Regions from separate parts of the Homo sapiens genome. Here region 1 is linked to region 2. A link means that fine-mapping ties the variant in region 2 to the expression of a gene that starts in the linked region. Tissue or cell type: tibial artery. Region 2 holds a variant in brackets; the other region holds the start of a gene. All regions are shown on one strand. Distances are from middle to middle.

Region 1 (10,875 bases), 56 kb before region 2:
CACTATCATGTTGCATCATCCAGAGAGTTATAAATAGGGTGGCCACATAAACCAGGGTAACTTTCAGAGCTACGGAGGCACTCCTTGGACTGCATGCTAGGATAACAGGTATAAACCAGAATTGCGCCAGGCAAACCAGGATATATGGTCACTCTAGGTACAAAAAAACCCCACTAATTACTATTTACTAAATGCTAACCCTCTCAACCATGTATATAGATAGCACTATCATTGTTCCCCATTTTACAGATGAGAAAAGGACGTCACTTGTTGAATGTCCCACAACTATTAGATGGTAGAGACTAAAGGTAAAACTGACTCCAAAAATCAGTGCTTACCTTATGTTGTACTACTACTCACAGTTTTAGGAACAGAAACGGGAAGTTAAAGGCGTCTTATGTAACAGCCAAGCAACAGTGGGACAAAAGAACTACTTGAGTGAGTCAAAGGAAAATATGGAATCAGAAAAGGAAAGGCAACTGCAATTCTGTGTGAATTTTTATTAACTGCTTACTACACAATAGGCACTGATAGTATTGACAATAATCAAAAGGAAAATTTGTGGTAAGAATTTGTCTTCAACTGGGGATTCTCAGATTTCAGGCTAGAAAAAATTCTGGTCTATGCACGTAGGTTGCCCTTCACATGACAGGAATGCTTCTGACGCACCTCATTAGCATGTGTTCTGAATTACTATTCAGTTCTAAATTATAATAAAATGTATCCAGTATAATCAGGGTTGACATTCTTTATAAAAATGCAATACTCACATTCCCAAACTTGAGAAACAGGTACGTATAAATGATTCTCCTTTATTCGCCAGTTCCTTTAAAACAACCCCAAGAGGGCATTAAAGTGCTTATTTACAGATCATTAACTACTCGGAGTGGCAGAGTACACTTGCTAGGAGTCACAGGCAACTAAAGACCTGCATGATTCCATGTATCAAAATATCCTTTATAGACAACTTTCCAAGAATACTATATTGGGGTGGGCGTGGTGGCTCTTGCCTGTAATCCCAGCACTTCGGGAGGCTGAGGTGGGAAGATCGCTTGAGCCCAGGAGTTCAAGACAAGCCTGGGCAACACAGGGATTTCCCCATCTCTATAAAAAATAAAAATAAATTTTAAAAAAGAATATTATATTGGGTAAAACACTCTGGATCCAAATGACACACTCCTGATAAAAGAAAAGGTATACATTTGTAACCTTGGCAGCAAAAGATCTAGACAACTACTGATCTAGAAATCTTCTAACAGATTTCTGTTACAAGCTAAATGTCTAAAGAAACTTGGAACAAAGTAATTTGGAAACTAGAGTGTAACTAACTAAACCAAACAAGAAAAAGAGATGTAATCAATACCTGCGGAGAAATCTTAAAAAGAGGATCTTCTTACACCCCAACTCCTGTTTTAAAGACTGCTACTACAACAGCAGCCACTCTAAGGAGAATCAAGAGATACTAATGATGTGAAGATAGGAAATGCCAACCTATGAAATCTCCTTTCAGTGATTCTGACAAGTCCTGGCGTAAATTCTATACAACTGCACCAAAAATTAACCGTAAGATAACTCTGATGACAAAAGGAGAAACCTGGATTTTACCTATCGGGTTAACACCCAAGCTGTACCCATTGGGGCTCTACTTGGTGTGCTTCCTAAGTCTCAGCTGACCCTTTTGATGAATTAGTGGCACATAGCTTCATTCAAATAAAGAATATCCTATAAACAAAAGTAGTTTCTTCTGTGCTCTTCTCCTTCCCCACATTTTGCTGATGGGTCTGACTCCACAGATCCTAGGTCAAAATGTTTAATGGATCACTCTGGAGAGTGCCTTTAATGTTCAGAAGTTCAGAGAACAGCAAATGTTCTGAAAGGCCTTCCGGAGAAACATGCTTATTGTAAGAGCTCTCCAACAAGTTGGAGATTTGGGTTTACACTATGAAAAAAGAATCAACTTGACACAGTGTCAATTTCCAAAGGTCCAAGGACAGTTACCACTCCTGTTACACAAAGTAGCAGCAAAAGAGGGATAAATAACCAGTGGTTATGGGGAACTAGATTACTTACTTGGTTTGACCGATAACTGCCAACATTAAACAAGGATCTTCTTCAGTTGTGGTACACTTAACTCTTAAAACTCAAGGATTCCTTTTCTTACCTCAAATTTTCCTAGCCATACCATCTGAAATCACCAGTGACAGTCGTGAACAAGCCTTACAATGTGAATTACACTACAGCTATTAAGACATTCCCGTGAAAAATTATTTTAGAACTCTGTGTCAGGAAAAGTCGTCCCCTTGAGGAATTGACATGTATTATTTCCCATGCCTGCTAAGGAGACTGTAACTATGATTCTTTTCATCCTCTGGCTGCTAAAAGTTTCAAGTTGCATGTGATCAACCTCATCAACTATCTTAGCCCTCGAGGTTAACAATATTTTTTTCATTCTTTCTATAGTTTTTACTTCCTTTTATATCACATATATGTTCTGTGTTATAAGCCACTTCAAATGCCCATTGAAGAAAGAATATAAATATACGAATAGACTTTTAAAAAATTACACTGCTATCTTAACTCCCCAACATGCCCCTATCTCCACCTGTTCCAAAAAAAATAGGCACTTATTTGGCAGATGAGGAGATGCAGGTACAAAAGCTAATTAATTTGCTCAAGGTCATATCCCTTTAGTTGACTTCTCGACACCCAGACATCTCAAATCTTCAATCAAACCAACAAGTCCTATTTTGTTCATAGCAGTGTGATAGACCTTGGCATACAAAACTGAGTAAGTCATGATTATAGCTGAAGAATCTAGATATTTATGCTTTTAATTGATGGACATCCACTCTATCTCAAACAAAGCAAACAAAATGAATAAAAGCTGACTCTGTCTCAAACAAAGCAAACAAAATGAATAAAAGCTGACCAGAAAGTGACACTGGGATCTGATCTAACTGAGGACCATCAAGGTCACCCTGAAGTAACCTATATCCTCTGGCATCAAGAACATCCTCAATTCCTGAGGGGCCTCAGGGCTTCAGAATAATCCAAGGATTACTGGTCTAGAGCCAGGGTAGAATTCTCATAGGTGAAGGACTGCACCATTTGAAGAGGTCTTTTTCTCACACCATTAAGTACCATGCCAAGTTACTTTTTTCCCTCTTACTTTTCCCATGCTTTCACGTTATCAACACATGGCAGAGGTACAAAAGTGACTTAAGTCTTAATGTTCAATTCAGCAGTTCTGAAAAACAGATTGCCTAGGACTTGCTATGTGACCTTGACTAGTCCTCAACTGATCCATTAACTTAATAAATGTCTTTTATCATCACTAGGGAAAGGGTAATTAGTCATCATGAAACACTTTATTACAAAGTACTACGTAAATGCTAAAGAATAAAACTTAGAAGAGAAAGATTAATAAGAAACACGGTGGGGCACATTTACTGGTAAATGGAAACTTAAAACAGGGTCTTCCCACATTCCTGGCAGAGCCTGCTTCTTTTAGCTAATGCAATATAAGTCTAAAATCATCAGCACTTGGCCTGACAATAATACACATTAGTAATATTCCTCCTGGGAAGAAGAGAGGAAAAGGGATAGTTATTCATGGTAGGTGGCCACATGGACATCTCAGTTACTAGTTAGCCAGGTGAGCAATTAATATTTGAGTACCTACTGTATGCTGGGTACAAAGCTAGGCACACTGGATACAAAGGTGAACAAGAATCCCTGCCTTAATGAGTTTTTACAATCTACGATATAGACTTTGTCTTATCAACAGTGGTACTTTCAAGAATACAGATTTACTAACATAAAGGCAAGTAACAGCAAAGAAGACAGAGTCTGGGAAATTCAGGTATTAGGGCTTTCCCATTCTTTCCTCTAACTCATCTAAGGTCCCACCCTCAATCATTCTGCTTATAAGGACTGTGACTGTTTCTCCAAAGAATAGTGCAGATTGCAAAGGGTCATTGTCCCAACAAAGCAGTCAACTGAACTCTCAGCACTAAAGTTAATCAGATGCCTCAGAGTCAAGGAATCTTCCACAATCTTTTAAAGGAATTAAATTCTTAATTTTGTGAGAAAACAGCGAAAGCACACAATGGCGACTCGTCTTTTTTGATCTTGCATTTGATTTCTGGAGTGGCAGGTTAATTCACTTAAAAAAAAAAAAAAGAGCCATCTCTCCCACTTAAGACAGCTTAACTAGTTGAAGCCTCAAGGACTTAACTATTCCTGCAGCCCTTGCTTTGTTCAGCCCTGCATCCCATTAAACACTGGATGCAGGCAGAGACAGCTTTGTAAGACTCTGTCTTTATAAAGAAGGGAGACATTTATCTGGGTTCTCACTGGCTTCAGGAAGGTCACCTCTTTGTAAAGGTTCTCTGGTCTACTGCTAACTGGGTGCCAGGTGTATGGAAAATCAAGATGTGGTTGGCAGTAAATGATGAGAAAGCAATAAGGATCCCAATTCCACCACTCGGAGAGCTAGTCAGACTAAAATCTCCAAAGGTTGCCATTTATGAGAGAATTCGAAGGGTGTCCTTTGAGTCAACCTACAGCACAATAGATCAAACTTGTTCTGCCTCAAAAGTACAGTCAAGAGTGAGCAATCTTCCCTTACCACCCACTACTCCAACCCACCCAAGCTCCTTTCTCCAGGGATGCCTAAGTGATCTATTCACATGACTCTAGGATCCACCTGTATCCATGACAGTGTCTGCTGTCACCAACCTCCAAATGTCAATTTCTTACATATTTCGAAGTAATTGGAATGCTGTAGAAAGTGAAAATCATAGATTTTCAGTTTCATGTTACCCTCATCGCTTTCACCTGTATATCAGAGCTAGCTTCACGCATTCTTTTCTCTTGCCTCCCAGCTATCACGCAGTTGTTGGATAAAGCGGCCACTGCTCCCAAAGATTTGATGGAAGTTCTGCCAGATTTACCCACTCACCTGAAGGGAGATTTTCTGTACACCCCATGCCCCCGGACTGGTCACAAGGGTCAGCTGAGTTGGTTCACCCCCTCCCACTCTCGTCTTCGAGGCCCTTCATCCAGGAAAAGTCAGTCGCAAATTTAAGGCCTGGCCCTGTCGGGTTTCAAAACGATCCCGGAGGACTTGGGCCGAGGGACAAAGGAAAGCGAGGTCAGAGGCGGCCTTTCAGCCCGGGAGAGGCCTGGGGCCGCACAGCCGCCACCCCCTACATCACCTCCGCCGTCCCCAGTCACCCCCAGAAGTCCCAAACTAGCCAGAGCCCGGGCTTGCTCGCGTCCCTTCCGCGAGGCCGGAGCCCGAGCCCCCGCCGCCACCCAGAGCCCCCGCACCTTCTTGGGCGCCTTGGTGACGGTGGCCATGAAGGAGTACTTCTCGGCGTCCTCGATCTCCTTGGCCTGCTTCAGCTCCTCCCCGACCCCGGGCAGCGGCATCGCGTCAGGCATCGACATTCCCCGGCCGGCCCGGCCAGCGGCTGACCCGCCGCCCCCGCCTCTTTCCCCCTCTGGCGCCCGCCCGCCTGCCCGCGCGGCGCCCTCCGACACGCGATCGCCCACCCTCCTGCCGGCCCCTGCGTCGAGCTGCGTCGGCTTCTGAGGTGCTGTGGCCCACGCCTTGTCTGTTCGGCAGCCCAAGGCAGCCGGACAGCGACGGCGGCCACAAGAGAACCAGAACAGCAGCTCCGAGCTCCGACCTGCCCGCGCCGCCACCTCCGCTGTACGCAAACACGCACGCAAAGCGAGGGTAGAGGGCGGTGACGCCACGTCAAGTACTGGCAGCTCCCGGGAGGGGGAAGAGGCGGGGAGAAAGGGCACTCTGTCGTGACGTCACCACGCTGGGCTGGGCCACAGAAGCCGTTCCTCTCCCGCTCGAGAGCGAAGTTCCCAGGGTGAGCAGGACCCTTTGTGCCACCAGGTGGCACCATCAGCCCTGGGAGCAGCGCGAGGTTCATGCAACGATGCTGCGGAACGGAGGGTCTTTGGGCTGCGGGGTTCCTGGCAAGGCCTCAGAGGCGCATGAAAGGGGTGTTTGGGAGCAAAGACCAGAGCCCCACACGACACATCCTACAGCGATTCCTAGGAAATGTCCGGGGCTCGAGACAGCCCACTCACTCACTGGCCCAGCCCCAGGCCCTTTGGATTAAAGCTCCTTCCCAAGGGGCCGTGCCTGTCTTTTTGACTTCATAGGGGGCAGAACTGACTCAGAGTAGTCTGGTTTCTGCACAACGCTTTGTGACTTCCTCCACCACCATCTCCGACTGGGCCTTGCCTGTTTACAAAACCCTCATTGGGATAGGGCTGATGGGTATGAGGGTGGAGACCAGGAGAGCTGATGGAGAAGTCCCCAGCCAGAATGGCCTTCCGGTCCTTGCTCCACCAAAGCATTAGACCCTTCCAGCTCTCAGTGGGCATCCAGGACATTCATGGACTGCTCACACCCTTTTACTGGGCCTACTATGTGCAGTGCCTGTGCTGAGGCCCTGCTGGCAAAAGGACATGTGACGCATTTTATGTTTTGCAAGGCTTAGTTCAGCTGGAGAGGCAAAACCTGCTTGTATCCTAATGTCAGCTGAGGTAGCTTGTCCTTTGAGATTCAAATGACATTGGCTCCAATTACCATGTCCTGTGGAAAGTCCATTACTGGGAGGACTTGGATTTTCATGGTCACCTCTGGCTCTAGTTTTTTTGCCTTGTCTGGCATTTTATTCACTATTCTGGTCTTGTGACTGTTTCTGTAGCTCCTGGGGTCAATTCAGCCGCTTCTCCTTTCAACCCCCACCCCATGCTAAACAACTACAAAATAAGGCTGTAACATGTAGTAAAACTTTTAATAAAGGTTTGTGGGTCACAGGGGAGAGATTACATCACACAGCAAACAATTTAAGAACACATTTCTGAAATGTTCTGAAAAGTTATTTTGGCTGTCTTACCACCCGGGGATTTCTCAATGGCCACAAGATCCCACCACGCTCCCTAGCCCATTGCCATCTAATCTAGCTTCCTCCTGTTCCTCCCTTCCCATCTCTGCACCTCATCCTTCCTTCCTTGATAGACTCTGGGAAGCCAGATTCTCCTCTGCTGTGCTGAGCAATTCCAGTCTTCCCAGTGCCCTTTCCCTAAATTCCTCCCCAGGACCACCTTTTTTTTTTTTTTGAGATGACGTCTCGCTCTGTTGCCCAAGCTGGAGTGCTCTCAGCTCACTGCAACCTCCGCCTGCCGGGTTCAAGTGATTCTCCTGCCTCAGCCTCCTGAGTGAGTAGCTGGGACTATAGGCGTGCGCCACCGTGCCCGGCTAATTTTTGTATTTTTAGTAGAGACGGGGTTTCACCATCTTGGCCAGGCTGGTCTCGGATCCTGACCTCGTGATCCACCTGCCTCGGCCTCCCAAAGTGCTGGGATTACAGGCGTGAGCCACCGCGCCTGGCCAGGACCACCTTTTAACATCCAGAAACCTCCCAGGTTTTTAACAGGGCATACCCTTTCAAGAAGGAAGTTTTGGTTTGAAATGGCATTTTCCCCACTGATTTGTGTTCAGGGCTGGGGAGAGTGTGAAATATTCACCTCTAGGGCCCTAAAAGTCTTAGTCAGGGAATCCTGTGTTCCAGCCACCTAGCCTCATGAGACTGTCTGTTTGAAAAGGGCTGTAGAAGTGCCTGGAAGAATGCACCCTTTGCACATCTGCAGACCTTGGTCTTGAACTGTTTGTATTCTTTCATCTGCTCACTTTTTTGAGCACTCACACTTCCCTGTCAGGGGCATCACTGTAGCAGAACGGGAACAGAGATGGAGACCAGAATACCAGGTTCATCCATGAGGGTGCCAGACTGACATCTTTCAGCTAGGGGTCAGGAACCACACCTGGTGCACTAAGGACTCTCTGAACATAAGGCTCACAGTGGCTTTCATCCTTGTGGGTTTGCCCAAACTGTTGGCAGAGCCCAGGGATCAGAGATGCCTGCCCAAAGACTCGAGGCAGAACCCATTGGAACCAGGGATGAAATCTCAAGTCCCTATAGTAGAAAAATGTGTGACTTAAGAAGATCTTTTTTTTTTTTTTTTTTTTTTTTTTAAAGAGAAGCATCAGTGTATCTGTCTTTTGGATTTGATTTTTAGAACTCACTTTGTCTAAACATGTTGTCTCTCAGTCCCCCAGTTCTGCTGTGCATTTAAGCATCCAGACTGTGAGCTTCCTGGAGATTGAAGTTCAGTCTTTACTCCTCCTGGACCAGGTCTGCCCTAGCACCAGGCTCACAGTGTTGTCTGCTATTGCTGCTGCTACAGAGGATGACAGACAGGGCCAGGCCTAGAGCATGCAGTACCTTAGCAGTCTGGGCTAAGAAGGAGATCAGCAGGTCAGACTCCACTCACCTGAGTGGCTGGCCTGAGGGGAGGTTGATGAGCTGATGTAGGAGAGTTCGGGGACTCAGACTGGAAAGGGGAAGGGCAGCACCCCCTACCCTGGTGGAAAGCATTAGGCCTATGTGGTTCAAGTGAGGCCAGGGGCCCGGGACATTCTTGGAAACCAGCCACTGCAGGGGGCATGGGTGGCTGCCATCCCTTCCATCACGTGTGTGCTGGAGAGCAAAGAGCTCACCCAGCCAGGGAGTGTGACAACATAACATCCGTGAGAATCATTGCATCCTGTCTCCCACCCCCAAAACCCATCCTAAGATAGCCTCACATGGCACAGCTAAGGCGATTGCTTCTCATGAATGCCAAGAGATGACTTGTCTTCAGCCTACCCACCCACCTGACTCAGCACCTCTACTGGCAAGCTCACTGCCCTGAACAGCGCATCCACACACAGGTGAGAGACCCCCCACGGGGCAATTGGAGAAGAACAGGGACCCAAAGACAGATGCACCTGCTGTGTGTGGTGGTGGGAAGTCTCCAAGGGCCTGGAGCGAAGACCCTTGCTAGAAAGGAGTGGCCTAAGGGCAGTGGTGAATTGGGAGATGCTGTCACCAGAAATGTAGTGGCATTGGGCTACCACACGTGGGCTTGGTCTTGTTAATCAGATTCACTGTTTGTCCACCCCCAAATTGATGTTCTACATTCAGTCATTTGTTCTTTTATTTATAAAATATATATTGAGTGCCGAAGAAGTGCCAGCAGCAGGGCTAGATGTCAGTCGGGACTACAGAGATAAATAAGCTGAGGTGCTGATCTCTACGTGGGGACAGGTGATGGGGGTGGGGTGCAGTGGAGGGCAAAGGGATGACACAGAGGGAGATGCTGCCAGAGCTGAGTCTTGACAGATAAGCAGCTGGGCAAGGGAGGGAAGATTCTCCAGGCTGAAGAAACAGCCTGAGAATAGGCATGGTGATGGAAACAGCTTGGCATATTACGGGAACTGTAAATATCCCCATGTGGGTGGGGCACAGGGTGCAAAGCAGGGTGAAGTGAGCGCTGAAGCCAGGGCCAGATCCTGCAGGGCGTGTTAAGCCCTGGGTGGGTGGTGGTGATGTCTGCCATGCTGGGGAGCACAGGAGGAGAAGCAAGTGTGGCTAGAGGGGTGGAGGGGGGCTGCTGAGAGGAGTCAGCTTGGGACATGTTGAGTTTGATATGTCTGTGGAGGGCACTGTCCCTGAGTCTCAGGGGAGCCCAGGTTGGCACCTTTTGGAACTGCCCGCTCCCTGCCAGTCAGGCTCCCCACCAGGGGGAGGCTGTGCTCCTCCTGAAGGCCTTTCACCTCCTGTCGGCCAGGTGTTATGTTAGCCCTCTGGAATGAAAGTGCAGAAAAACTGCAGAGATCTTGGGTGACAATGGAAGTTCGGAAGAAGGTGAAGAGGGCAGTGGCTCTGTCTCTAGCTCTCCAGCATGGGCAAACCCTCCAGCTCCAGGCTTCTTTCTGTCCCAGAACTGCTACCTTGCACAGCTCTAGGAGGCACCACTGACATTGTAATTATTGTGAAAGGTGCCCTGGAGCACCACTTCAGATTGGTCACCTACCTCGCTGGCCCTTAGGGACCCCCAGAGGGTGGGCTCCCGGTTGCACCTCTGTGGCTGTGGGTGCTGGTCCTCAGGCTTCCTGGCTCCTACTTCCCACCGAGCTCCCTCCCTCCCTACCCTCAGCCTTTTCTCCTTCCCCTTCTCCAGTTCCAGTGGGAAAACATTCCTCCTTCTCTGTCTCCCCCTCTGCTTATTATTGTCATATTTATTAGGATCACTTACTCTTTATTATCATTTTGAACATTATAGGAAAGAAAAATCCATGAAGATTTTTTAAAAATTTCTTTTCATCTTGTTAAGTTCACTCCTAGTTCTTAGCAATTTGCAGAAACTCATTTTTACATACCTGTGATTGGTAGGTTCATGTCCTTTTGTATTCTGCTTTGATCAAATTACAATATTTCAAAAACACATGACCCGAACGGAGAGCATTGACATACTTGTTATTATTGTCCATGTTTTCCAAGCTTTCTGTCATATTGCTTTATGAGTTTGCTTAACTGTTTTCCTATTGTTCGGTATTTGAATTGTTTCCAACTAGTGCAATATAATGGAATGGAGGGAGGTGGTTTCGGAGTGGGTGTGGGGATGGCTTTCAAGCAAAACAGGCGAAGATGGGTCACAGCACCAGCTCCTGCCAGAGAAAGGGAGCAAAAATGTAAGTAGTGGGGGCAGTTATAATGACTGTAAACAAGGACCAGGATAAGGAGGCACCTTTTGGCCCTAGAGGATCTGAGGTCCTGTGTCTGGAACTCGTGATAGCTGACTCATGGCGAGGCTGCATGGTGTGAGGAAGCAGGAAAACTGGGCAGAGATGTGGGCTCAAATCTTCACTCTGCTACTAACTTGGCCACTGGCATCCTGGACCTTTTTTGACCTCCTCTTCCTCATGCAAGACAGGTTGATAGCTCTCCATCTGGG
Region 2 (10,442 bases):
CCCAAGGCCACTTTCCACTCCAGTCTCCTACCTGGCTCTTCTTGTCAGCCAGAAATACCTGAGCAACAAGATCTCTAACTACTCATCCCTGTGGGAAGCACCCAGCTCTGCCACCTTCCTCTGAGAACAGCCAGGCCCTGGTAGCATGCTGGTGCCCAGGGCTTGCCCAGAGGGGAGCTCTCTGTTTGGCTTGGGCACTGTTGGACCAGCTGGCAGGCACAGTATCAATACACACTTGATTCAGGGGCAGCCCTTTGGAGCCCACAAAGTGCTTTTGGGTTTGTCATTTTATTTGAACTGCAGTCCAGGTATACCTGGTTTGCACTCTTCCTTTTTTTTTTTGAGACGGAGTCTTGCTCTGTTGCCCAGGCTGGAGTGCAGTGGCACGATCTCGGCTCACTGCAACTTCTGCCTCCCGGGTTCAAGTGATTCTCCTGCCTCAGCCTCCCAAGCAGCTGAGGTTACAGGCGTGCACCACTATGCCCGGCTAATTTTTGTATTTTTAGTAGAGATGGGGTTCCACCATGTTGGTCAGGCTGGTCTTGAACTCCTGACCTCAAGTAATCAGCCCGCCTTGGCCTCCCAAAGTGCTGGGATTACAGGTGTGAGCCACTGCACCCAGCCACCTGGTTTGTACTCTTAAACTAGTTCTACAGATGAGGAGAAACCTGAGGCTCAGAGAGGTTAAATACTTACTCAAGGTCAAACAGTAAGAGCCAGTGAGAGATTCAAGCCAAGAACCCAATTTCTGTTGTTTTTTGGGTTTTGGTGTTTTTGAGACAGGGTCTTGCTTCATTTCCCAGGCTGAGGTACAGTGGTATGATCTGGGTTGACTGCAGCCTCAACCTTCTGGCTCAAGCTATCCTCCCATCTCAGTCTCCCATGTAGCTGGGACTACTGGTGTGTGCCACCGCATCTGGCTAGTTTTTGTTTGTAGAAATGGAGTCTCATTATGTTGCCCAGGCTGATCTCAAACTCCTGGGCTCAAGTGATCCTCTCACCTCAGCCTCCCTAAAGCGCTGGGGTTACAGGTATAAGCCACCACGCTCAGCCAGTTCTCTGGTTCTCAATTCAAAGCGAATATTGCTCTATAGGTATGATGCTTCCCAAGCAGCCCCTGCAGCACATGAAGCCCAGGAAAGGCCTGCCGAGATTCTCAGGTCTTTCTGGGGGTTCCAGAGAGGCAGCTAAGGGGAAGGGGTCTTTGCTGTCCTCATCACCAATCCTTGCTTAGAGGCTTTGAAGTGTACATTCCATCCACCACAGCCCAGTGATCAGGAAGGGCTCTAACTAGCCCCATTTCTGTCAGAAGCCAGGAAGACTCCTCTGCTGAAAATCCTTCTGCTTGGCCATTGAACAGTAGTTATTAGATACTAATCTCATTTGCTAATACCAATAAGGCCTCTAGAAAAGGCCACCCCTTACGTCTGGTCAGAATTTGCATTATGATGCCTCTGTTCATGCTTTAAGTATTAACCTTTGGCACACAGTTACTGAGCACCTACTGTGTGCCAGATACTCTTAGGCGCTAAGGCACTAGGCGCATGTCCCCCTTTAATAAAAGGAGGGATGTAGCAGTGTCTGCCACTGACCATGGCCTGGTGGGACAGACAGACAAACAGATTCCAAATTCCAAATCTGTAGAAGCACAGGGGAGGAAGGAATTGAACCTGGGTGGGCCTCAGGAGCTTGAGTCAGGCTGGGAAGGCTTCTCAGAGGGGCCTTGAAGGATAAAATGTAAGTTTCTTCAAAAATCTTTTCTGTAGCTCTTTTGATAGAAAGGGAAGAGCCATCTTAAGGGAAATGACAAGGGACAGGGTGGCAGGGGTGAGGGCACAGAAAGGGGTGACTGAGACACCTGAACACCTAGCCCCTGGTCAAATGTGCTTGATGCCAATCTTGGCCCTGTATCCTTGGTCCCTAAGTCCAAGGACCTAATCTTTGGGGTAGCACTGTCCAGTAGAATTTCTGGAATGATGCAAATGTTGTATTTCTGTGCTGTCCAACATGGTAGCCACATGTAGTTACTGAGCCCTTGACATGTGGATAGTACAGGTAAGGAACTGAATGTTTACTTTTATTTCATTCTAATTAATTTAAACTTAAATAGCCACCCTACCTGACAGTGCAGCTCTAGATACTTCTTATCCTGGATCACATTGGAATCACCTGAGATGTCTTTTAAAAGTTCTGACATCTGGTGCCTGAGCCTCACCCCTAAGATTCGATTTTGTTGATCTAGGGTGGGGCTCGGGGATCAGTATTTTTTTTAAACAATCCAGGTGATTCTCCCGGAAGCCAGTGTTGGGAACCACTAATCCAAAGCTGTCTACCACTCCCTCAGGGATGGGGAGGCCCCTCTTGTCATAGCTTTGCCCAGGGTGTATGTTTGGGCCTTCAACTCCTCTGGCCCTGCCTAACACCCCTCTCCCCATGGAAAGCCACACCCTCAGTCTCCTCTCCAGCTCCAGTAGGAAGGTCGAGCCCGAACGAGGGCCCTTACACGGACTCCTGGCTCTCCCCTGCTAACCACACTCACTTCCCAGCCTGGAAACAGAATTCATTCACCTCAGAGTCTGCAAGGACCTAGCCAGCAACCTCTGCCCTGGTCAGCAGGGCTCAGCAGTCAAGGAGCCTTATCCTTGCAGGCCGCCGGGGCCCTTGGACAGAGCCCAACCAGCCATTTTCCCAGGCTGGGCTAGGCTGGGCAGGAGCAGGGGCCAGTGACCAGGCCTGATGTTTGGCCACTTTCTGCCCAATACGAGCAGATATGCAGATGAATGTGTTTGGGACAGCAATAATACAGGAGGTTTTGGTACCAAGACTGAAACTTGGAGAGAACCTTCCTCCCCTGTGTTTTGTGGAAAAAGGTTCTCTGAGCTGGGGTTCATCCGGCAACTGCTGCCCACCCACCCTGATGTTTGCCACCCACACCCCAAAAGCAACTTTCCCACGACTCACATGGCAGCTTGTGCACTTCTTTTATTATTAAATATATAAGCAGCTTCCTATCTTTTAAATAGATATTTAAATGACTTTATATAAAATAATTCACCACTTCCAAGTATAAAAACAAAATCTCACAGTGCGTGAGCCAATGTCCTCTCTTGACTTCTCAGAGAACAGAAGGGGTTCCTGAGCAGGTAGCCTGGGGGGACACCAGAGGTGGCTCTGGGGCTCCTCCTGCTCTGATGCCACCAAGTGCTCAAAAAGAGCTTCTGCAGTGGGTTGGATTGCTTTTTTGACCTTTAAAATATTATATGTTTAAGGTAGGGGGATGAAGGGGGAATGCCTTTTTATTTTTCTTCCATTTAAAAATATGTGTTTTCTAGCATCAAATATAGAGGCTGTGACTAGAAGGCTAAGCCCCATATGCAAGTTCACTGCCCTTCCCTAAGCTGTCGGCATCAGGACAGGGAAGGTGGGGCCAGCCGACCCTCACTTTCCTGGGCAGGAAGGGAAAGTCACGGGGCCCAGCGGCCAGGTAGGGCAGGGTCTCTTAGCGGAGGACAAAGGGCGGCAGGAGAGGAGGCACACAGCAGCACAAAGGAACCCAGGGGCAACTGGCAGCCCTGTCGCTCGTTGCCTAGGCCTCAGAGCCACCACCACAGGCTGGCCACAAAGTGGAGGCCCTCCAGGCATTGGAAGCTGAGGCCTGGCTCTCCTGATTGCTCTCCCACCCTGGCTTGCCTGGTTAGAGGTGATGGTAGAGGGGGTGGGTGAGAGTTGGAGGTCATCACTGCTGACCAAGGTCAGGAGGAAAGAAGGGTGAGAAGTGGATGGGAGCTGGATACCATGCAGGTGGGGCTGAGATGCAGCCCAGTCCAGGGCTCCTGACAGGGATAACCTGTTCAGCCCCAGGTTCCTGTCGGCAGCAGGGAAAGGACACTGCGCTGGGGTTTGGGAGTGCAGACCCTCCCCCAACCTCAGGTGCATACCTATATTTCAAAGGCCCATCTTCAGTCAGAGCTCGCCCTGTAGCCTCTCTGTCTGTGCCCTCCCCTCCCTTGCTCTCTCCCACTAGTCCCTTCCCTCTTGGGAATGTCAAAGTGCAAGATGCAGAAACCTGGGCGAACAACACAGCCTAAAGACCGGCTCTGGCTGGCGGCCCAGGAGGTTCTCCCACCCCACTCCACTCCGGGGAGTCAAAGGCCAGGTCAGGAGAAGGTCAGGGCTGAGGGGCTCCCTCAGTCGACTGGTGAGGCCAGCTCAGTGCAGGAGGCTGGGGAGAGGCTGGAGAGTGGAGGACGGACGGATGCTGGCTCATGGATGGACGGGGGCAGGCTGTTCAGCAGGCAGGTACAGTGTTCACAGTGCAATGGCTTCCTTCATGAGGGGAGCCTCTGCTTGGCCTCCTGGAGAAGCTCTGGCAGGTGCTGGAAGGAGGAGGGGCAGAGGCCAGTGCTTGATCCCCCTCTTGGCATCACTGGCAGGTCAGGCAGGTCCTGAGGGCAGGGCTGGCCTCCCCTCTGCGCCTGGCAACCAGCACAGGGCACTTAGGTGAGCCGAGGGTGTAGACCCTTCAGGCTGTCAGTGCAGACCAGCAGGTCCAGAGGCCTCCTCTTCCCGTCTCTCAGGCTGCACACCTTTACGGGAAATCAGGCCGACGCTGTCCCGCCCCACGAACTTCAGGCTCCTCTCTCTGGAGACAGGTCCATGCCTGTCCAGGCTGGGATACCTTGGCACCAGGCAGGCCCTCTGGGTGCAGGGTTCTTTCACTCCTCAGCGTCCACCCTGCTTTCCCACAAACCACAGGCCGGTGGGTCCCTGGCCTGGGTTCCGGCATGGAAGGGAGTGAGAGGAGGGTGCAGCCCCTGAGGGAAGAGGGTCCTGAGCCGGGCTCACCAGCCTTCCTCAAGCACATGGGAGCCTCCAGGGCTCACAATAAATAGTGGCAGCATGGGGAGCATCCTCTGGCCTCTCTCATTCAGTCAAGGGTCTGCGGGTTGAGACAGAGGGGCCCCAGCCTGGCTGCTCTGGTCCAGTCCTGGCAGGCAGGAGCTCTGGTGGAGGGCAGACCACATTCCAGGAGGATGGCCAGGGAGGGGTGGTGGTGGACGCCCCATAATGTCTCCTCCCACGGAGAGACTGTTCTGTGCGTCCAGCTGTGGGAGAGAAGGAAAGGCTAGTCAGCAGAGTGGGAATGCGGGGAGGGTCGTTGAGGACATGGATTGGGAGGTGTGGCATTCCTGTGGGCTGCTGGCGGTGCTGCAGGCAGGACTTCCTTTCCTCCCTTCCCTGGCCTTTCCAGACACCACAGAGAGACCAGGCAGCTTTCTCTGGCACCAGCCCAGGCCTCTGGCCCAACTGGCCTCACCTCCTACCTCCTCCTGGGGAATCAGGGCCTCAGTGGAAGATAACGGGGCCCGGGAGAGGTCTGGGCAGGGCTGGGAAGAGGGGTTACTGCTCAAGCAGAGGGCTCTGACAAGGAGCGAAGCGGGCACTTGAATGTCTTTGGACCCCTCCTCAGGCGAGGTCATCTCATTGGCCTTGGTCCAGTGAACAAAGGGTGATTCCTGCTAACACTAGCAAAGAAGAATCTTTCATTTCATCAGAGGGGCATCACATATGATGTTCAAGACAGTAGGGCAGAGCTAGCTGAAGAGGAACAACTTGGGCCAGAGAGGAAAAGTCTAGAGGCAGTGCCAGGACAAGGAAATTCCCACACTGTCATTTGGCACGCGACCCCTAAGCAACCCAGCCCCTCCTGGATGGGCCGAGGGCCTTGCCTCCCGCATCATCCATGGGAGTCAGGGCCTTGTCCTCTCGCCTTCCACCCCCATCCTTGTCCTCTTGCCCAGCATCCTCAGGACG[C/T]TTTGTTCCCAGAGCAGAAATCCCCTGGACCCCATCCAACAGTTTGACTTTGGACCTTGTGTGGAGCCTCCCTCCCTAACATCCATAGGCCCTACTGGGTAAGGAGGGAAGATGGAACCACAGCCTCTGGCTCCCTGCCCATTCCCATGCTCTAGAGGGAAAGAAGGGGAACCATAAACTGGACATGAGCCATGCTGGGTACAGCCAGGCCACAGGCCCAGCTAGGGCCCAGGAGGGGAGAAGGACCCAGTGAGCGAGTTCCAGCCTGCTGCCCCATCTTCTAGCTGCTTAGGGCTGAGGTGCTGGTGTCTGCATTTTCTGTGGCTCTGAGTCCCTATCTCAGTCTCTGCCTCTATGTTTCTCTCTCTCACTTCTCAAATCACAGCAGCAGTCACTCTAGGGGCTGGCACTCAATCTCTCCAAGGCCACTGGTGCCTGGCCTGGAGACCACCTTAGGGCTGGACCTGCCGGGCCAAGTGGGATCTGGATGTAGCCCCTGCCCTGGATTCCCTCTCCAAGTGAAATCTTGAGGGGGAAGAGGAAAGCTTGGGACGGGCCTGAGAATAAGCAAGTGGGGAAAGGAGGGTGGGCGTGTAGAGGGGTGGGACAGAGGGCCAAGACCACGGCGAGGGGTTTGGGGACAGACGACCCGTGGGAAGGGTGTTGTGGCACTGAGCCACCAGCAACCAGTTCTGAGGAGGCCTGGGTCATTTCACAGTCTTGCCAGTGCCCCAGCTGACCCACTCACCCATCTTAGCCCACCCCACTGACAAGGTAGACCCCAGGATTCCAGATATGTTGTTACTGCTGGTTCTTGTCTAAATAGGTTCCCCTGGTTTTGAGCATTTGCCAAATTCCCTATCTCTCTAGAAGGGGCCCAGACCTGTCACTCCACACATGGGAGAGCCCTGCGGCACTGGCTTGCACTTGGTAAAGGATGTGACTGGAAACTTGACTGGGTCACCCCAGCTAGTCAGCCAACCAGCCAATTAGTCAGGCAATCAGCTAGTCAGTTGCTCAATGGGCTCCCCAAGCAACAGCTGGTCAGTTAGGCAGTTACCAAGATAGTTGGTTGGTTAGTCATTCACCCAGCCAGCTGGTCAGCCAGTCAGTCAGAGTCAGTCAGTTAGCTGGTTAACTGGTCAGCTAGAGGCTGGTCAGTTAGAGACAGCTGGCCAGGGTCAGTCCGTGAGTCAGCCCTGAAGCCAGTCAGTCAACATTTATTGCATGTTTGGCAAATGTGGAGAGGCCCTCTCTTAGTAGAACCCAGGATGGAAAAAGAAACACAAAAAAAAGTGGAAGACAGTCCCTGCCCTCAAGGGGCTTACAATCTTAGGGATGTGGAATGTACAATACATATAAAATAAGATTTTAAAAAATATGAAAACAACATCCAAATAAGTGCAAATTGATATACTATTAGCCAAATACAAAAGAGCAGGAGGAGCATGACTGAAAAGAGCAGTCAGAAGGTTGTGGAGAAGCCAGGAAGGCTTCCTGATGGGCTGGCTGTGGGCTTGGGTGGGAGGGGGAAGAGGTGGGCCAGCTGGGGTTGGCGGGGGGCAGGGGTGAGGAACAATAGGGTCACAGCTACATCAACAACATGGGCAAAGACAACAGCAGGCACTCATCAATGTGCAGGAGGCACAACTGGGAGGGCTACGGAGATGACAGAATTAGGATTTCACACAACTTCAGTAGGTTCAGGTGATGGGCAGAAACCAACAAGGTGGCTTTAACAAAGGTGAACATAAACTGCACTTTGGTTAAAAAAGTTAAGTTGTCCAAGTACAGGGTAGAGATGGTCTGGCTTGACAGAAGTTTATGGGAAATGGAACTAGGGGTTTTAATAGACCACAGGCTCAACATATGACAACAGTATGATGCAGTTGTTAAGAAAAAAACTAATGCAATCTTAATCTGCACAAATAGAAGAATACTGTCCATATCAAGGAAGGTAACAGTCCCACTGTACTCTCTCTGAGCTGGTCAGACAACATCTGGAGTACTGTGTCCGGGGCTGGGCGTCACATTTTCAGAGGGACATTGACAAACGAGTGTGTCCAGGATGGTGAGGGGTCTGAAAACCATATCATATAAGGAACGTTTGAGGGACTTGGCCATACTTAGCTTAGAGAATTCTCAAAGGGGACATGGATACCTGACTTGAAATATCTGAGGGTTTTCATGAGAACAGGAGGGAGGAGCAGTATGGAGGGGGCAGGGAAGCCAGTTTTGCCTCGCATGAGGAAGACGTTTCTCCCAGTCTGACTGGAAGATGGCATGGGCTGTGGCTAGGCAGGGAGCTGGGCTGGATCTGGGAGTGTGTGACAGCCAGCTGGCTGGCTCCCTGTTGGGGACATGGAGAGGGGCAGTCCCTTTGGGGTGGGAACCAGGGCCAAATGACCCCTGAGAGCCCTTCCAAGACTCAGGTTCTATGTCAACATGATCCTAAAAGCAAGGAAGCAGAACTGACCTCAGCTGGGGAGGAGGGTTAACTGGTGCGGGGGTGGCGATCTGGCAAGCAGCTGCTGTCGAAGGGGCTTGGCAGCCAAGCCAAGAATATAGGGCTTGCAGTGGCTGCCACACAGAGCTACTGAAGATTCTCCAGGAGGGTAAAGACCTTATAAAGGCCACATTTGAAAAAGGGGGGTTTAGTTGCTCTGAGGTCACAGGTGGCAGCAACACTAGAAGCCCAATGCAGAGGTAATAGTCCCTGGCCTCAGCGGGGGTGGATGGAATGGAGGGGCAGGGGGATAGCTGAGGACCTGGAAAGGAGAGGGTGGCTGGACCTGGCTGGCGATGTATGGAAAGGGAACTGGAGAGAGGCATGGGAGTCAGTGTGGGGGCCTCAGGGGAATTGGTGTCACCAACAGGTGAACGTGACTGGAAAAGGGTATAGGTAAGTTTTAGGAGTGGAGATCAAAGTCAGAATCTTACCTTAGAATTCCCTCTACACTGGCAGTTCCACCTGTCTGTCATCCTGAGTCAGGGGGCTGCAGGCAGAGCACAGGGCTGGTATTAGACATCAGCAGGAGCAGGGGAATAAGGGGACTCCGTAAGTTTACCCCTAAGCCCCAGACATGCTCTAGGCCCTCTCAGATTGAAAAGACCCAGAACTGTCTAACTCTACGGAGAAATCAGGAAAAAGCCCAGATATCTGGGAAAGGACAGAGGCCCTTCTTCTCTCCCCCATCCTGTTCTGCAGCTCCATTTCCTCAGAGCAAGCAGGAGAGCCCCACCACCACGAAGAGGGGAAACAGATCCCAAGCCAGGCCCCCAGTGCCTCCCAGAGCCCCACCTCAAGCTCTCACCTGCCCTCTGGTTGCTCCAAGGGAGAATCCGCTCTCTGAGGCTCTTGATGGCTCTGAGGACAGGAAAGAGCATCTCACTGAGGAGCTGGGGGAGTGTGGGGGGGCGGTGGCCCATCCCCAGTAAGGGCTGCCCCAGGTATTTATGAGAGAGTTGCAAGAGTCCTCCCAACTTCCCAAAAGTGGGGATCAGCCAGAGGCCCAAGGGAGATTTGTGAGGTCTCTCTGCTGATGGTGTCCCCTCTCCTCTCCCCACACCCTTGCAGGCTGTTCCCTATGGGTCCTCCTGCCCCAGGCTCTGCAGAGCTTCCAGTGTACGCCTGCCCTGACACGCTCACACAGCATTGCTCTCCTCCTCCAGCTCCCTGCCCGTCTGGATATCATCCTGCTGTCAGCCCATGAATATTCTCTCCCGCTCCCTTCTGCTCCAGTCCCTTCCCATTGACCTTATAGCTTGAACCTTCCCAATTCTCGAAGTAATCCTCCATTTCCACCTCTCATCCTCTGTGCTGAGCCAGCCCCTATCTCTCTGTGTCTGAAGAACTCAGGCCGCACCCAAGCTGTCCCCCCACCTGCACCCCCGCCAGGCTCTGCCCCTGCCCTAAGGGACGTGCTCTTCTTCCTCATGGGGATCTACTCACCCGCCGCCTCCACCTGTAGAACAAGAGGCCTCCGACGGCCAGCAAGACCAGGATGACACTGGGCACCAGCAGGTGGAAGACAGACTCCTGGAGCTGCGGGCTGAAGGATCCCTCGGACTGCCTCTCATGGCCTGTGTCAGTCAAAGGAACGGAGTTAAAACGGGGCAGGGGCCTGGCTGCCCCTTCACTTGCTGGTCCTCCTTCTGGCTCTGCGGGGCTCCTCCGATCCCTGGTGCTCCTCCTGCCCTCCAGCTCCCCAAGGGGCAGCACGCTGCCCGAGGAGTGGCTTCTGGAAAGCTGTGGCTGAGCAGAGAGGGTGGAGGGGTTGCTGAGGCCCTGGGGGCGCAGTGATGAGATCCTGGGAGAGCCTGGCTCCGGGGGGTCTCTGAGCAGGGCAGATGGATGGTCTGTCTTCTGGGGGGTGTGATTCCAGTCCTGGCCAGTGGGCCTCACGGGGCCCACCCTGGGCAAGGCGGTACCAGTTACATCTGCCGGCTGTTGGCCCTTTGCTGATGCAGGGAGTGGAGAAGATGCTGAGAGGAAGTTGCTGGGTCTGGCGGGCTCTGTCTGCATGCTGCCCCCTCCTGGCCTGGAGGGGGAAAGCTCTGTCCCTTGGGGTACGGGAATCTCACTGGCCTCTCCAGAGGCTTCTTCTGGGACCCAATTAGTGCCCATT

Direction of the effects. Alleles are on the strand shown, and positions count from the first base shown. SD is a standard deviation of normalised expression in the study named.
In carriers of allele T in region 2, the expression in tibial artery of the gene that starts at base 5,742 in region 1 tends to be higher than with C alone (small effect, 0.22 SD a copy in GTEx).

Evidence for each region. PIP is the estimated chance that this variant, and not a neighbour inherited with it, causes the effect.
Region 1: AHCYL1 starts here. The variant in region 2 is fine-mapped to the expression of AHCYL1 in tibial artery (GTEx, PIP 0.98).

Annotation. Positions count from the first base shown.
Region 1 is chr1:109,979,632-109,990,506 of GRCh38, reverse strand. AHCYL1 (adenosylhomocysteinase like 1) reads right to left here and starts at 5,742. Exons shown (of 17, transcript NM_006621.7): 1 at 5,335-5,742. The coding sequence starts at 5,454. RefSeq lists silencers at 5,197-5,266, 5,447-5,516.
Region 2 is chr1:109,923,515-109,933,956 of GRCh38, reverse strand. CSF1 (colony stimulating factor 1) reads right to left here. Exons shown (of 9, transcript NM_000757.6): 6 at 9,767-10,442; 7 at 9,129-9,181; 8 at 8,755-8,810; 9 at 2,965-5,105. The coding sequence ends at 8,768. Among named protein-coding and RNA genes, the nearest start is that of CSF1, 18 kb to the right of the region's middle. RefSeq lists a silencer at 2,595-2,809 and an enhancer at 1,933-2,881. The variant C/T (reference allele first, on the strand shown) is at 5,815.